Homo sapiens: one gene and its partner. The protein of the gene in region 1 interacts with the protein of each later gene in a biochemical or structural test. Each region holds a gene or a part of one and is shown in the gene's direction. Other genes may lie near its edges.

Region 1 (7,016 bases):
GCTCGTGTTGCCACGCTGGCCACTGCTGGACCACTGGCACCGTGTTCGCTATGGCATGGCTGAGGCTGTGTGGCGCCCCTCCACAGCCGCACCACCAGAGAACACCCAGTGCCAGCACTTAGTCACTTACTGCCTTGCCTGCCTGGGGAAAGATCCTGGAGAAGGTGGCCTCATTGGTTTGCAGCTCTGCTGGGGGTCCAGCCACAGCCCAGGAGTGACTCTGACCGAGGTGTTGGCCCCACAGACCAGCCGTTGTCTCTGTTGGAGGCTGAGGGCCACAGCACAGTGCCCACTACTTAGCCAGCAGGCCGTGGCCACCTTAAGAGGCCAGGGGAAGCTGGCGGGGGAGGGCGTGTGGGCTGCCAGCCTCCACCCTGGACATGATGGTGTGGGGCATGGTCCCCTGTGTCCCCCTTCCTGTGAGTAGGGGTGGCCCTGCTTCTTGGCCCATGTGTCTGTCCACACAGCAGACTTGGTCCGGTTTCCTCAGTGCACTGGGGTCCTGCAGAGCTTGGGGAGGCAGCACAGGGGGCGGGGGGCGCAGCAGTGACTCATCTGCCCTCCCTCGAGTAGGGGCCGGCCAGGACGTGGGCCGAAGCTGCATCCTGGTCTCCATTGCGGGCAAGAATGTCATGCTGGACTGTGGAATGCACATGGGCTTCAATGACGACGTGAGTCCCTTGGGCAGGAGGCCCAGAGGCTGGGAGAGCCGGCCATCCACAGCTGGACCCTGGGCCTCAGAGCCGGGACAGTGGGGTGGTGGGCAGCAGTGGTTGTGCTTGGATGGCTGCACCCTGTGGGGAGCAGGGATGGGTGGGCCTGGCCGAGGTGAGCCCCTGCATGGTGGGGTCCCCCTGTGCTGGCGCTGAGCCCCAGCCCCGGGGTCCTGTAGGCTGGACTCCGTGAGACCCTGGGCTCAGCTTCCAGCTCACATCTGTCAGTGAGGTTGGGGGTAACCTCGGCCCCTCCGGATGCTGTGAGCAGCCAGGGGTCCTGGTGCCACCTGCGGGATGGGAGTGCCCAGCCTGAGTCTGCACATAGAACCCCCCTTCCTGGGGGCCCCTCCCTGGGGCATGGGTGGCCCCAGATGCTGCCTGGAGACCACTGTGCAACCTGAAACCCCCACATCCTTCCTAGCGACGCTTCCCTGACTTCTCCTACATCACCCAGAACGGCCGCCTAACAGACTTCCTGGACTGTGTGATCATTAGGTGGGTTCCTGTTGGGGGCCTTGAGGGTCCCATGTCTGTGCCTGTGGGGCTTGGGCCACCTTGCTTGGTCTCGGCAGCGTTTGGCAAGGGGCCTGTGCCATCCTTGATCCTCAGGGGGCTTCTAGGCCCCAGGATCTGCTCCCTGCCTGCCTTACTGGTCACACACATGGCCTGGTCTCTGTCTGTTCTTCCGGCCCTGCCCTCTGAACCCTACTTTCTGAACCCGGCCCTCCAGGCTTCACCCTCTCTGATGCCTTCACTGTCTCAGGATCTTTAAACCCCACTGTCTTGTTGGCGATTCCAGAGTCCCGAGTCTGCCCTGACCCCAGCCTTTAGGGTTCAGCAGCTCATGACCCGCTGGTCTGGGTGGCCTCGTCTGGACGGCCACAGCACTCCTGCTGGCCCCCTGCCCTTCCCTGCCCTGTCCTCCCCAGCAGCCAGGCCCGTGAAGCCTGGAGAAGCCCCTTCTCCTCTCCGGAGGCAGTGTCCTCAGCTGCCCCTGAGCCCCTCGTGGTTGTGGTTTCTTCTCAGACACGGTGGGGTCCCCAGTGCCTTCCTGGGGCTTGCCAGGCGCTGCCCTTGCCCTCAGGTCTGTGCCACCTTCACCTGCAGCTCCACTCAGCCTGTCCTGACTGCCTGAAAAGCCAGCGGCTCCCCTATGCGCGGTTCCCTCAGCAGCTTTGCATTGTCTCGCGAGCATGTCGCCGTCACCGACGTGTTCAATTTCCCGTTTGCTTATTGCCTTGCTAGACTTTGAGACTGAAAGTTCCAGGGAGACAGTTTTGTGTTTGCTCATTACTGACTCTTCGGTACTCGGGATGAGGCCTGGCGCACAGCAGGCGAATGAAGGGGCCAGTGACCCACAAGCCCAGAGCGGGGGTGAAGGCTGGGGCAGGGTGGGCCCAGGCTGACCTGTGCTGCGTCCCCCTAGCCACTTCCACCTGGACCACTGCGGGGCACTCCCCTACTTCAGCGAGATGGTGGGCTACGACGGGCCCATCTACATGACTCACCCCACCCAGGCCATCTGCCCCATCTTGCTGGAGGACTACCGCAAGATCGCCGTAGACAAGAAGGGCGAGGCCAACTTCTTCACCTCCCAGATGATCAAAGACTGCATGAAGAAGGTGGTGGCTGTCCACCTCCACCAGACGGTCCAGGTCAGGTTCCCAGGGCCACAGCTGGCACAGTCACTGCCCACCCCCACACCAACCATGCCCTCCGCCCGTTCTACACAGTTTCTGGAAGGCTGGGGCCTCAGGGTGAGCCCACCCCACCTCACTCTTGCGTCCAGCACCGTGGGGACACCAGGAGGCGTCAGCGCGAGGATGCGGGTCCCAGACCAGACTGGGCGCCGACCCGGGAGAGCACGTGCAGGGTGGGGGTATGCACCGGCTTATGAACCCACCAGGCTCTGTCCGAGCGGCATTGAAATGGCCAGAGTGGGACAGGCTGGTGCCCTCAGAGCGCTTGGAGCGGCCAGAGACTCGCTGGAGCTCCCGGGGTGTTGCCGGGCAGGGAGGCAGGGGCTGGAGGGGAGATGGGCCAGCTCTGGAGGGTGCCTGGTTCTGGGTGTGGGTCAGGGAAGAAGTGAAGGTTAAATCAGCGAGTGACAGGTGAAATTCCATTTCTGACAAAGATTATGGGTTTGTCTGTGTCTCACTCGAATCTCTGGGTATTGCTTTTATATTTCTTGAAACTATATTAGGTACCTATGTATTTTGGAACATTTAATTTTCTGATTGAACTTGTCAAAATGAAGTATGTTTATCTTTTTTGTTGTGAAACTTTAATTTTTTTTTTTTTTTGACAGTGTCTCACTTTGTTACCCAGGCTGGAGTGTGATCTTGGCTCACTGCAGCCTCGGCCTCCCGGGTTGAGGTGATCTCCCACCTCGGCCTCCCAAGTAGCTGGGACTACAAGCATGTGCCCATACGCCCAGCTAATTTATTTTGGTATTTTTTGTAGAGATGGGTATGTGTTGCTAAGGCTCTCGAACTCCTGGGCTGGGCTCCAGGGATCCTCCCACCTCAGCCTCTCAAAGTGCTCGGATTACAGGCATGAGTCACCACACCTGGCAACTCCCTCAGTACATTTTAAACCCAGAAAGACATCATTTCTAATGCCTGGTAACACCAACATTTGCTTAGTTTTATTTATATATTTATCCTTTTTGTTGGGCTTCCTGCATTTTTTCTACTTTTTACTTGGGATAATTTGCCTTCTGCCTGAAGAATATGAGTGTGGGTCTGCTGGTGCTGAATTCTGTCAATTTTTATTTGCCTTGGCCAGGCGCGGTGGCTCACGCCTGTAATCCCAGCACTTTGGGAGGCCGAGACAGGCGGATCACGAGGTCAGGAGATCGAGACCATCCTGGCTAACACGGTGAAACCCTGTCTCTACTAAACAAAATACAAAAAAATTAGCTGGGCGTGGTGCGGGCGCCTGCAGTCCCAGCTACTCGGGAGGCTGAAAGGCAGGAGAATGGCGTGAACCTGGGAGGCGGAGCTTGCAGTGAGCCAAGATCCCACCACTGCACTCCAGCCTGGGAGACAGAGCGAGACGCGAGACTCCGGCTCAAAAAAAAAAAATTTATTTGCCTGCAAATGGATTTACTTTATCCTCGTTCTTAAAGGACTTTTTTTCCCTTAGGTGTGTAAGATTTTAGGTTGACAGTATTTTGTCTCTGCACTTTGCAAACAACGTTCTGTCTCTGGGCATGGGCAGCCGTAGGGTCTGAGCAGGAGCCTTGGTTTTTGGTGCTTGTGCTCTGATGGGCTGACATGTATCCTCAGCCTGTTTAGAGTTTGAGGCCTCTTGGATCTGTGGCTTGAGGCCTTCATCATGTTTCTTCCAGTGTTGTTTCTGCCCCGTTCCTGCTCCTCCAGGGACCCCGAGAGCCTGACGTTCAACCTCTTGAAACTCCGTCATCTGTTTGTCTTTCCTGTTTCCTGATGGATATTCCCTCTGGTGTCTTTCAGTTCATGGATTCTCTTCTGGTTATGTGTCATATGGTGTTAAATTCATCTGTTGAATTCTTTTTTTTTTTCTTTTTTTTTTGAGATGGAGTTTCGCTCTCATTGCCCAGGCTGTAGTGCAGTGGTGCGATCTCAGCTCACCTTGAACCTCCGCCTTCTGGGTTCAAGCGATTCTCCTGCCTCAGCCTCCCGAGTAGCTGGGATTACAGGCGTGTGCCACCACACCCAGTTAATTTTGTATTTTTTTTTAGTAGAGACGGGGGTTTCACCATGTTGGTCAGGCTGGTCTTGAACTCCTGATCTCAGGTGATCCACCCGCCTTGGTCTCCCAGAGTGCTGGGATTACAAGAGTGAGCCACTGCGCCTGGCCAAAATTTTGTTTTTAAATTAGCCTGGCGTGGTGGGTGCGTGCCTATAGTCCCAGCTATTTGGGAGGCGGAGGTGGAGGCGGGAGGACGCTTGAGCCCAGGAGTTTGAGTGAGCCATGATTGCGCCACTGCAGCCTGGGTGACAGCCCCACCCTGTCTCTCAATTTTATTTATTTATTTTTTTTTGAGACACAGTCTCGCTCTGTCGCCCAGGCTGGAGTGCAGTGGCGCGATCTCGGCTTACTGCAACCTCCGCCTCCCGGGTTCAAGCAGTTCTCCTGCCTCAGCCTCCCGAGTAGCTGGGATTACAGGCGCACACCACCACATCCGGCTAATTTTGTATTTTTAGTAGAGACGGGCTTTTTCCGTGTTGGTCAGGCTGGTCTTGAATTCCCAACCTCAGGTGATCCACCCGCCTCAGCCTCCCAAAGTGCTGGGATTACAGGCATGAGCCACCGCACCCGGCAAGTTTTAAATGAATAAATTAAATTTAAAAGAAGTCTAGTTTTTTGCCAATTTTTGTTTTTGACACTCTCGCTCTTGTTGCCCAGGCTGGAGTGCAATGGCACAATCTCAGCTCACTGCAATCTCCGCCTCCCGGGTTCAAGTAATTCTGCCTTAGCCTACTGAGTAGCTGGGATTACAAGCACCCACCACCATGCCCAGCTAACTTTTGTATTTTTAGTAGAGACAGGGTTTCACCGTGTCGGCCAGGATGGTCTTGAACTCCTGACTTCAGATGATCTGCCCACCTTGGTCTCCCCAAGTGCTGGGATTAAAGGTGTGAGCCACTGTGCCCAGCCCAGTATTTTTTTGTTTGTTTTTACCGAGATGGAGTCCCGCCCCATTGCCCAGGCTAGAGTGCAGTGGCGTGATCTCAGTACACTGCAACCTCCACTTCCCAGGTTCAAGCGATTCTCCTGCCTCAGCCTCCTGAGCAGTTGGGATTACAGGCACGCACTTCCACACCTGGCTTACTTTTGTATTTTTAGTAGAGACGGGGTTTCACCATGTTGGCCAGGCTGGTCTCCAATTCCTGACCCCAAGGGATCCACCTTAGGCCTGGCCGCCAACATTCTGAACCTTGTCTTTTCTCTGTCATGTATTCAAAGTCCACGCTGGAAACTCCAATTTCAGGTCCCTTCAGTTTTTTGTCCGTTGTCTTTCGTTCTTTGTCCACGTTGCCCGTCCCTTGTGAACTGGATGCTGTGTGTGAGCAACAGGGACTGAAAAGCTCAGTGCAGTGCCCTCGCTCCCCGCCCCGCCTCCCTCCCTGCCCCCGCCCCCCTCACTCCCTGCCCCTGCCTCCCTCGCTGCCCGCCTCCCTCCCTCCCTCCCCGCCCCCACCTCCCTCGCTCCCGCCCCCGCCCCCTCGCTCCCCTTCCCCCACGCTCCCCACCCCCGCCTCCCGCGCTTCCCGTCCCCCGCCTCCCTCACTCCCCGCCCCTCTGCTGTGAGGACACAGCCTGAGCGCAGCCCTGTCCTCCACAGGTAGATGATGAGCTGGAGATCAAGGCCTACTATGCAGGCCACGTGCTGGGGGCAGCCATGTTCCAGATTAAAGTGGGCTCAGAGTCTGTGGTCTACACGGTCAGTGGAAGGGCTTGAGGCTTGGGAGGGGCTGCTGGGGTGGGAGGCACCCTCCTCATGGCATCCTTGATCGTTCACCAGGGTGATTATAACATGACCCCAGACCGACACTTAGGGTAAGTAGGCTGAGGTGTCTTTTTGTCCCGTGGGCCCCCCTGGAGCTCAGGACCCTTGCAGGTGTCAGGGTGCCAGCCCTTGAGTGGCCAGCCTGGCAGTGTCTCCCATGTCCTGTGCGGCCTGGAGAGCCCCCTTCGTTCTGGGCCCAAATGCGCGAAGGCACAGGGTCCAGGCAGGGGCCTCTGTCCCTCCTTCTCTCTCTTCCCAAGTCTCTGGGTGGGTGCCTCTGTCTCGCTCTTCCGAAGTGTCTGGGTGGGTGCCTCTGTCTCTCCTCTCTCTTCCCAAGTGTGCTGCCCACAGCATTTTACCAGCTGGCTCTTTCCAGCCAGAGTGACCTAGGAAGGCGGCTGGGCGTGGTACTGGGGTCCAGCTTGTCACACCCAGCCCTGCAACCGTGGGGACAGTGCATCGTGGCTCACACCCCCACCCCCGTGTTCCAGAGCTGCCTGGATTGACAAGTGCCGCCCCAACCTGCTCATCACAGAGTCCACGTACGCCACGACCATCCGTGACTCCAAGCGCTGCCGGGAGCGAGACTTCCTGAAGAAAGTCCACGAGACCGTGGAGCGTGGTGGGAAGGTAGCTGCAGCAGGGGTGGGGACATGGGCCCTCGGCCATGCTGGGCTGGTCTTTCTGGCAGGCTTGGCTGCCCTTGGCATGGGTCAGGGTCTCAGGGTGGGGGGTACTGCATTTTCAGGCAGGGAGGGAAGAAGATTTGCTCAACATTGAGGAGGAAAACTCAGAGACCCTTT
Region 2 (7,995 bases), on another chromosome or scaffold:
GCAGCCCCCAGTGCCTGTCCCCTCCTGGCCCCCCACCTCTTGGCCCTGGGTCAGCCTCCCCAGACACAGGACAGGAGCGTGATGGGAGAGGGCCCATCTGAGCCCCGTCCGCCCGCAGGACCTGTGGATTCCTTATTTCGCCATCACCACCGACATCACAGCCTCGGCCATGCGGGTCCACACCGACGGTGAGCACTCCTGCTGCGCAGGGCGGCCGCTTGGGTGCGAGGTGTGGGCAGGGGGAGAGCTCAGCAGCCCCAGGGGTTGGGAAGGCCGCGGGGTCTCCTGAAGGATGCAGACGTATGGGCAGCTTTGTCCATGGAGGACACAGGATGCCCCTACTAGGGGCACAGACAGGAGGGGGCGTGGCCTGGGCCAGAGACCTCAGAAGGCTGGAGGAGACCCTCACAGAATCAGCAATGTTGGGCTAGACTGATGGATACCATGTGAGAGGACAAAGTGAGGGGCTCCCTGAGTCCTGGGGTGAGGGGCTCACCTGGTTCAGGGGGATGAGGGGTTCACTCGGTCATGGGGTGAGGGGCTCCCTCAGTCCTGGGGTGAGGGGGTCACAGCAGTTCGAAGTCCTGGGCACATGTAATGCAGTGCGACCCCAGAGAAAGAACTCAATTTTGTTCAGCCCTTGGGCCATGAGCTTCCCTCTGTGGAGGCGGCCTCAGAGAGTTGGGACCTACCAGCTCCAGGACTGCAGTGGCAAGGCCCTGAACCCTGGACCCAGGAGGAGCCTCCTCCGGGTAACCAGCAGCTCCGGGCCCCCTCCCCAGGCTCCCTGTGGTGGTACGTGCGTGCCAGCATGTCCCTGTCCGGTTACATGCCCCCTCTCTGTGACCCGAAGGACGGACACCTGCTGATGGACGGGGGCTACATCAACAACCTCCCAGGTACTGCGGTGGGGGGACCACGCCCGGCAGGAGCACAGGCTCCTGGGTCACGCCGCCCCACGGCCCCTGCCACAGCTGCCTCCGCTCCAAGAAGCCTGGGCTGGAACACGTTTTCCTTAGAGTATGCCAAGGGAAAATGTCAGGCTGGCATCAGAGCTCCGAGAACATGCACACGCGTGTACATGCACACGCAGGCACCGGCAGCATGTGCTCCAGCATATGGCCCTGTTTGTCAGCTCAGCAGCATGCAGAACAAAGGCCAAGTCGAGGAACTGGGAGCAATTAAGCCCCATCTGTGCCCACAGTCAGAAACTAACAGCCTGCAGGTGTCGAGCTTGCTGGGGGCCAGGCCAGGCCACTCCTGTCACCTGTGGGATATACGGTCAGAAAGGCCCAGGACACAGCCGTGTGCCCACAGCTGCCCATCGAGCTGGGCATGTGGGTCTTCTGCCTCTAGAAGGTGTAATGGCGGAGAGGAGACCCCACAACCCCCACGTCAGGGCTCGGAGAGGCAGGCTCTGCCCCCGTCCCCTGGCTCTGCATGCCTGTCCAGGGGGTAACCAGGGCTGGCTTCTCCCTAGCGGATGTGGCCCGGTCCATGGGGGCAAAAGTGGTGATCGCCATTGACGTGGGCAGCCGAGATGAGACGGACCTCACCAACTATGGGGATGCGCTGTCTGGGTGGTGGCTGCTGTGGAAACGCTGGAACCCCTTGGCCACGAAAGTCAAGGTGGGGTGCTACCGGGCAGGCTGGGCTGTCCCTGCTGCTCCTCCCTGCAGCTCCACACCTGTCCTGCGGCAGGGGAGTGGGGGTCGCTCCTGGGCTCTGAGGCCAGCAGGTCTGGGGCCACCCCTCACCACCCCTGCCTGAGCCCAACTCGGGCGAAGGAAGGCACGAGGCCGGACGGGCCTGAAGGCTGTGGCAGCCCGCAGGGAGGACCCCCGGCCGGGTGCTGCTACCCTCTCCCCCCAGAACCTACCTACCCCAGAGGATGGGTCCCCAGAACCTGTCCTGCGCCACGGGCCAGGCTGGGACGGGGTAGGGGCCGGGGCAGGAGACTCAGGCGGCTGTGACGGCAGCAGGTGTTGAACATGGCAGAGATTCAGACGCGCCTGGCCTACGTGTGTTGCGTGCGGCAGCTGGAGGTGGTGAAGAGCAGTGACTACTGCGAGTACCTGCGCCCCCCCATCGACAGCTACAGCACCCTGGACTTCGGCAAGTTCAACGAGATCTGCGTGAGTGCCGGCCACCCGCGGCGGCGGAGGCGGGCGGAGGCACTCTGGTGGCTGCCCCTCCTCGCTTCCCCCTTTTGAGAACACAGGAAGTGGGGGGCTCCCCACACCTCCTGACGGGGCCCTGGGGGTGTGCACAGGAAGTGGGCTACCAGCACGGGCGCACGGTGTTTGACATCTGGGGCCGCAGCGGCGTGCTGGAGAAGATGCTCCGCGACCAGCAGGGGCCGAGCAAGAAGCCCGCGAGTGCGGTGAGTACGGGCGTCCGGACCACGCCCAGCTCCCCGGACCGCGCCCAGTTCTTCGGGCCACGCCCACGCCCAGTTCATCAGGCCACGCCCAGCTCCTCAGGCCACAGGCCCTGCCCCCCTGGCCAAAGACTCCAGGGCCAGGACAAGGATTGCTCAGGACTGCGCATCTCCCCGGTCCCTGCCCTTACTTGGGGGGCAGGCGGAGGCTGCAGAGAGGGCGCAGGGTGGGTGGGGCCTCCCCACAGGAAGCAGGCTGGGGACTGGCAGGCGGGTGTCCACAGGCAACGTGCTGTCCTCACCCCACCCCTAGGTCCTCACCTGTCCCAACGCCTCCTTCACGGACCTTGCCGAAATTGTGTCTCGCATTGAGCCCGCCAAGCCCGCCATGGTGGATGGTGAGTGGAGGCGCAAGACGAAGCCGTGGAGACGTGCGTGACCTCCTGATGCTGTGTTGGGCTTGAACCCCCCCACCCCAGAGGCCCACGGCCTCCCCTCCCGCCCACGTCCACGCCCAGGCTCCAGCAGCTGGGGTGCTTGGTGGCACTCCTCCGTCCCGGGCACCACGTGTTCCCACAGCAGTGGGACTGTGACCACCCCGGGTCACCCAGCCCCTGCCCTTCATTCACCTCAACTCCCAGCCACACCTCAGGCCTGAAGTAGAACCACGTTTTGCCTCCCACCCCACCCAGTGGGAAATGGGAATGAAGGCTGCTTGTTGGAGGGGCCGCAGGACAAGAAGGGCGGGTCCACTACCCTCCATGCTCCATCCAGGGCCCTGCGCTTGGGCCTTCAGCCAGTGGCCTCCTCACAGCAGAACTGGACATTCTCCTGGGAGACGTCTTCATGGCTGCCGCAGGCCGAGAGGGCCCTGGGCAAGGCAGCCCCTATCCACAGTTGCCAGGTCTGGGGTGCTGGAGCCCTCAGGGTGCTTGGCTGACAAGGGGAGGAGTGTCTGCCCGCTCCTTGTCCTTGTGGAAGACCCACGAAGTGATGTGCTGGGGCAAAGCTGGAGCCAGACAGAACCAGGGGTGGTGTGCAGGGCTGCCCTGGGACCAGGTGGCTGCGTGTAGGGCCCCGGGCCACCTTGGAGGCGGGGGTGGGCATCTGTGGCCGGTTCTGCCTCTGAGTGTGGCTATGCTGGGTACGGTCCCTTCCTTGGGAGGGGACTGACGCAGCCCTACCCTCGGTGCCAGACGAATCTGACTACCAGACGGAGTACGAGGAGGAGCTGCTGGACGTCCCCAGGGATGCATACGCAGACTTCCAGAGCACCTCAGCCCAGCAGGGCTCAGACTTGGTGAGGAGCTGGGCATGGTCCCACCTGGTGCCCACAGCTGAGCCTTGGTGCCTGGCCCTGTGCCGGCCACTCCCTCCCTGTGGTCCCACCGGGTTACCAGCGCTGCAGAGCCCCTGCCCTGCCTGGTCCTCACCTGGAACATGCGGTCTGCTTGCAGGAGGACGAGTCCTCACTGCGGCATCGACACCCCAGTCTGGCTTTCCCAAAACTGTCTGAGGGCTCCTCTGACCAGGACGGGTAGAGGCCTCTGCTAAAGAGCCCGGATGCAGCGTCTTCCGTGGGACTGTCCCCAAGGCTGAGGCTCCTGCCAAGTCCTAGGGGCCTCTGTACCTGCCCTGCTGGAAGCCCTGACTTCCCCGGGGCCCCAGGCTGTGTTAGGGTTCTCTGGGCCTCTTCTTTGTACCAGCAGCCCTGCATACAGGGCCCTGTGAGCCCCCCTGCAGTCCTGTGAGGCCCCTGAAGCTCTGTGAGGCCCCTGAAGCTCTGTGAACCCCCTGCAGCCCTGTGAGGCCCCCCGAAGCCCTGTGAGGCCCCCCGAAGCCCTGTGAACCACCTGCTGCCCTGTGAGGCCCCCAAAGCCCTGTGAACTGCCTGCTGTCCTGTGAACTGCCTGCTGCCCTGTGAGGTGTGGGAGCCCTGATGCTGCCGTGTGATGTTTCAATAAAGGTGGATCTCACTGTTGGACGTGTCTCCCGGGCCGAGGTCCCTGTGGCAAAGAAACACTACTGGTTCTCCCTGATGCGGGTGGTCCCTGAGGCTGGGCAGTCCCCAGTCCTCCTCAAAGGACCCCACTGCTGGGGCCTGAGAGCCCTAGGGCGGCAAATGCAGGCCAGGCAGGTAGGGCGTCCAGAGTCTGCATAGAGCTGTGGCCCCCCAGGACCAGGACGGGCCCCTCTGTCTCTCTCTGGCCTCGTGCAAACTGGGTGCCCCCTAAACTGGCTTCCCCTTCGGTTTCCAGTTCCCAAACTGCACAGGGAGCCCTTTTGTGTAAGGGGAGGGAGAACCGGCCTCCCTGTGATCCTGCAGGTCTGAGCAGCAGATCGTGAGGGCCGAGGGCCCAGGACTTTGCGACCAGGGGGCCGCTGGCCTCAGTTTCCCCGCTCTGGAGGCCTGGACGAGAGGGCGCGGAGCCAGGCCGCCCGGCCCCGCCCCCAACTCAACCCGGGCCCGGACGTCACGGTGGGCGGGGCCACATGTCCTCTCCGAGCTCTCCGGGGCCCTGACGTCACGGTAGGTGGGGCCGACCGCCCCTCTGGGCCCGCCCGGGCCCTGACGTCACGATGGGCGGGGCCGGCCCTCGGTTCGGGCAGCGCTCTCCCGGGAGCGGCGGCACGCGCGGAGCGCCGGGTGCGGCCATGCGGGGACCGGGCCCGACCCCGAGCCCGACCCCGAGCCCAAGCCCGAGCCGGAGCCCGAGCGAGACCCCGAGCCCGAGCCCGAGCGCGACCCCCGGTGCGGCGCGGCTACCCCGGCGGAGGCGGCGGGCGCGGGGCGCGCTCTGAGGCCCGGGGGATGCGCCGCCGCCTCGACCATGGGCGCCGCCGCCTCCAGGAGGAGGGCGCTGAGGAGCGAGGCCATGTCCTCGGTGGCGGCCAAAGTGCGGTGAGTGCGGCGGGGCCGCCTTCCCGCACCCCGCCCTGGACCTCCGACCCCGCCCGAGTCCGCCCCTGCCCCGCGGTGCTCCCCGGGCTCCCGGGCCCCGGCCTCTGCCACTGAGGCGCCCTCCCCGCGCCCCGCGCCTCCCTCTTCCTGGTCCCCTGCCCTGCTCTTCCCTCCCCTCCCCTCGCGAGCGCGTGGTGGGCGAGCGCACCCCCCAGGTCGGGAGTGGCCTCGGTTCCCCCGGGGAACAGCAGCCGACCGGCCTCGCGACCCCTCTCCACGGTCCGACGGGCAGGGGCCGGGCCTGCAGGCCTGGCCAGGGCGCACCAGGACCAAGGGTGTGTGGGCTCCCGGAGGGGGACGACCCCGACCCTCCTTCCAGACGCCGAGGGCCTGGCTGGGGACCGGACCCCCGGCTCTTGCGCGGCCCGGTGTTTGGGAGGGTCGTGCCGTGGCCTCTGACCGTGCCCTCTGTCCACCCTCAGAGCAGCCCGAGCGTTTGGAGAGTACCTGTCCCAGAGTCACCCTGAGAACCGCAACGGCGCAGGTAGGGGCACGCGAGGCCGTGCCAGGGCCGCCCAGACCCCCCAGCCCAAGGGATGCTGATCCCTGCCTCCGGGGGTGGAGCGTGAGGGGCATTGGTTGCGCGTGGGCCCGGCGCCCTGCCGGCCTGGCTTCCTTACATCCCCTGCCCTCCCTGCCCGAGCCCCAGGAGCAGTTCCCAGCCGCTCGTCACCATGGCACCCACCCCGCCTGGGCCGTTGGCATGGCAACAGGCCTCCTGGCTCCCCCAGGGCTGGCACCACTGCCTCTGGGGGCCAGCTGGTGGGGGGAGGGGGAAGTTGGCACCAGGCAAACGGTGCGATCGCAGGCTGGGGGATGGCCTGCGTGTTCCTACCCGGCAGGACCGCACACAGGTAGCACAGCGTCACCCAGCCCCCACGCACATGCTAGAGCTTCAGGCCCAGATAGGAGTGAGGGGCTCAGAAACACGCCAGTGACTAGGGTTTGGGCAGCCCTAGTCCCCCACAGAGGCCAGGTGCCCACTGGGTGTTCTCTGCCTTCGGCCTGCTATGAAACCGGCAGCGGGGGGCCCACACGCGGCAGGCAGGCTCACTCAGTGTCTCTCCTAGATCACCTGCTGGCTGATGCCTACTCTGGCCACGACGGGTCCCCCGAGATGCAGCCGGCCCCCCAGAACAAGCGCCGCCTGTCCCTCGTCTCCAACGGCTGCTACGAGGGCAGCCTCTCAGAGGAGCCCAGCATTAGGAAGCCCGCAGGCGAGGGCCCTCAGCCTCGAGTGTACACCATCTCTGGGGAGCCTGCCCTGCTGCCCAGCCCTGAGGCGGAGGCCATTGAGCTGGCGGTGGTGAAGGGGCGGCGGCAGCGGCACCCTCACCATCACAGCCAGCCCCTGCGCGCCAGCCCTGGTGGCAGCCGGGAGGACGTCAGCAGGCCCTGCCAGAGCTGGGCGGGCAGCCGCCAGGGCTCCAAGGAGTGCCCCGGATGTGCCCAGCTGGCTCCTGGCCCCACCCCTCGGGCCTTTGGGCTGGACCAGCCACCTCTGCCTGAGACCTCCGGTCGCCGCAAGAAGCTGGAGAGGATGTACAGCGTTGACCGTGTGTCTGGTGAGGGGTTTGTGTCAGGGCATAGACAGGTTTGGGGGTGCATGCCGCTGCCAGGGTCTGACAGCAGCAGCCACTGTGAGGCTTGGAACAGAGAACAGGTGCTCAGGTCACAGCATGCCAGCGGACTCAAGATTAAAACCGGCAGGCTTCTGCTGCGGCCTCCACACCCTATGAGCTGTGAGCTCCCTCAGCTCCTCAGCAAAATCTGCCAGGCCTCACAGTCCGCTTTCGCCCTGCTAGCACCAGGTCAATCAAGGAGTGCTTCCTGGAGGAGGGGGCCTGGGAGGATCTTAAGGGATATGTAGGGAGGAAGCACCGCTTAATCAGGAGACTGGGCTGCCCTCCGAGAGTCCTGGGGAGCTGTTGGGGCCCAGCCAGGCAGTGGGCATCTTTCCCCAGGGTTGTTGAGTTGTGTGGTAGCTTGTCCACCAGGCAGAAAGTCACTCCACTGTCCCCACACTTGGGCATCAGGGAAAGGCTGTGGGGGCCCTCGGAAGGGGACAGCCCTCAGCAAGGTGGTCTCTAGCCTCGGTGAGGGCCTCCAGCTAGAGCATGGGGGCTGCAGAGAAGGCCTCAGAGCCTCTTCTGCCCAAGGGAAACAGACGCATTGTTTTCCTGGGCCTCCTGGAGACAGACTGTGCTTTCAAAGGAATGTTTCTCAAACTTTGGGTGGCCAAAGGGAAAGTTAAGCCAAAAAAATCAAAGCGTCAAGTTACCAAGAGCGTGGTCTTGGTGAGTGAGCAGCAGACATTCGAGCACTGCCCTCTGTGCCCGTGTGGGGATGCCACCCTCCCCCCACCCGCCCTGGCTGCCAGCTTCTGCTGACCCCTGGACCCAGAAGCATCTGCTTCCCAACAGGGAGGGAGAGGCTTCAGGAACCCCTACTTCACCCAGCCACCGCTCCTTTTTGTCTCTCTTAGACGACATCCCTATTCGTACCTGGTTCCCCAAGGAAAATCTTTTCAGCTTCCAGACAGCAACCACAACTATGCAAGCGTGAGTCTTGTGCCCACGACTTGGGGTCAGGGTTGGGTGGTCTCTTTCTGCTGCTCAGGAAACAGCACTTTTTCCCAGTCTCTGGGCCTACC

What was found. The genes of interacting proteins can lie anywhere in the genome.
Region 2: the proteins of INTS11 (region 1) and NSMF form a complex in vitro, tested with the Homo sapiens proteins (one study listed by BioGRID).

What each region holds. Positions count from the first base shown.
Region 1 is NC_000001.11:1,314,651-1,321,666, reverse strand, and holds part of INTS11 (integrator complex subunit 11), read left to right. Parts: intron 1-573; coding exon 574-671; intron 672-1,137; coding exon 1,138-1,211; intron 1,212-2,142; coding exon 2,143-2,371; intron 2,372-6,048; coding exon 6,049-6,147; intron 6,148-6,228; coding exon 6,229-6,263; intron 6,264-6,704; coding exon 6,705-6,843; intron 6,844-7,016.
Region 2 is NC_000009.12:137,456,319-137,464,313, reverse strand, and holds the start of NSMF (NMDA receptor synaptonuclear signaling and neuronal migration factor), read left to right. Parts: upstream 1-4,979; 5' UTR 4,980-5,211; coding exon 5,212-5,282; intron 5,283-5,764; coding exon 5,765-5,826; intron 5,827-6,412; coding exon 6,413-6,907; intron 6,908-7,827; coding exon 7,828-7,903; intron 7,904-7,995. Other genes in the region: PNPLA7 (patatin-like phospholipase domain-containing protein 7), read left to right, coding at 119-188, 783-899, 1,481-1,629, 1,983-2,135, 2,273-2,383, 2,694-2,778, 3,577-3,680, 3,838-3,921. UniProt on the Homo sapiens protein: Couples NMDA-sensitive glutamate receptor signaling to the nucleus and triggers long-lasting changes in the cytoarchitecture of dendrites and spine synapse processes. Part of the cAMP response element-binding protein (CREB) shut-off signaling pathway.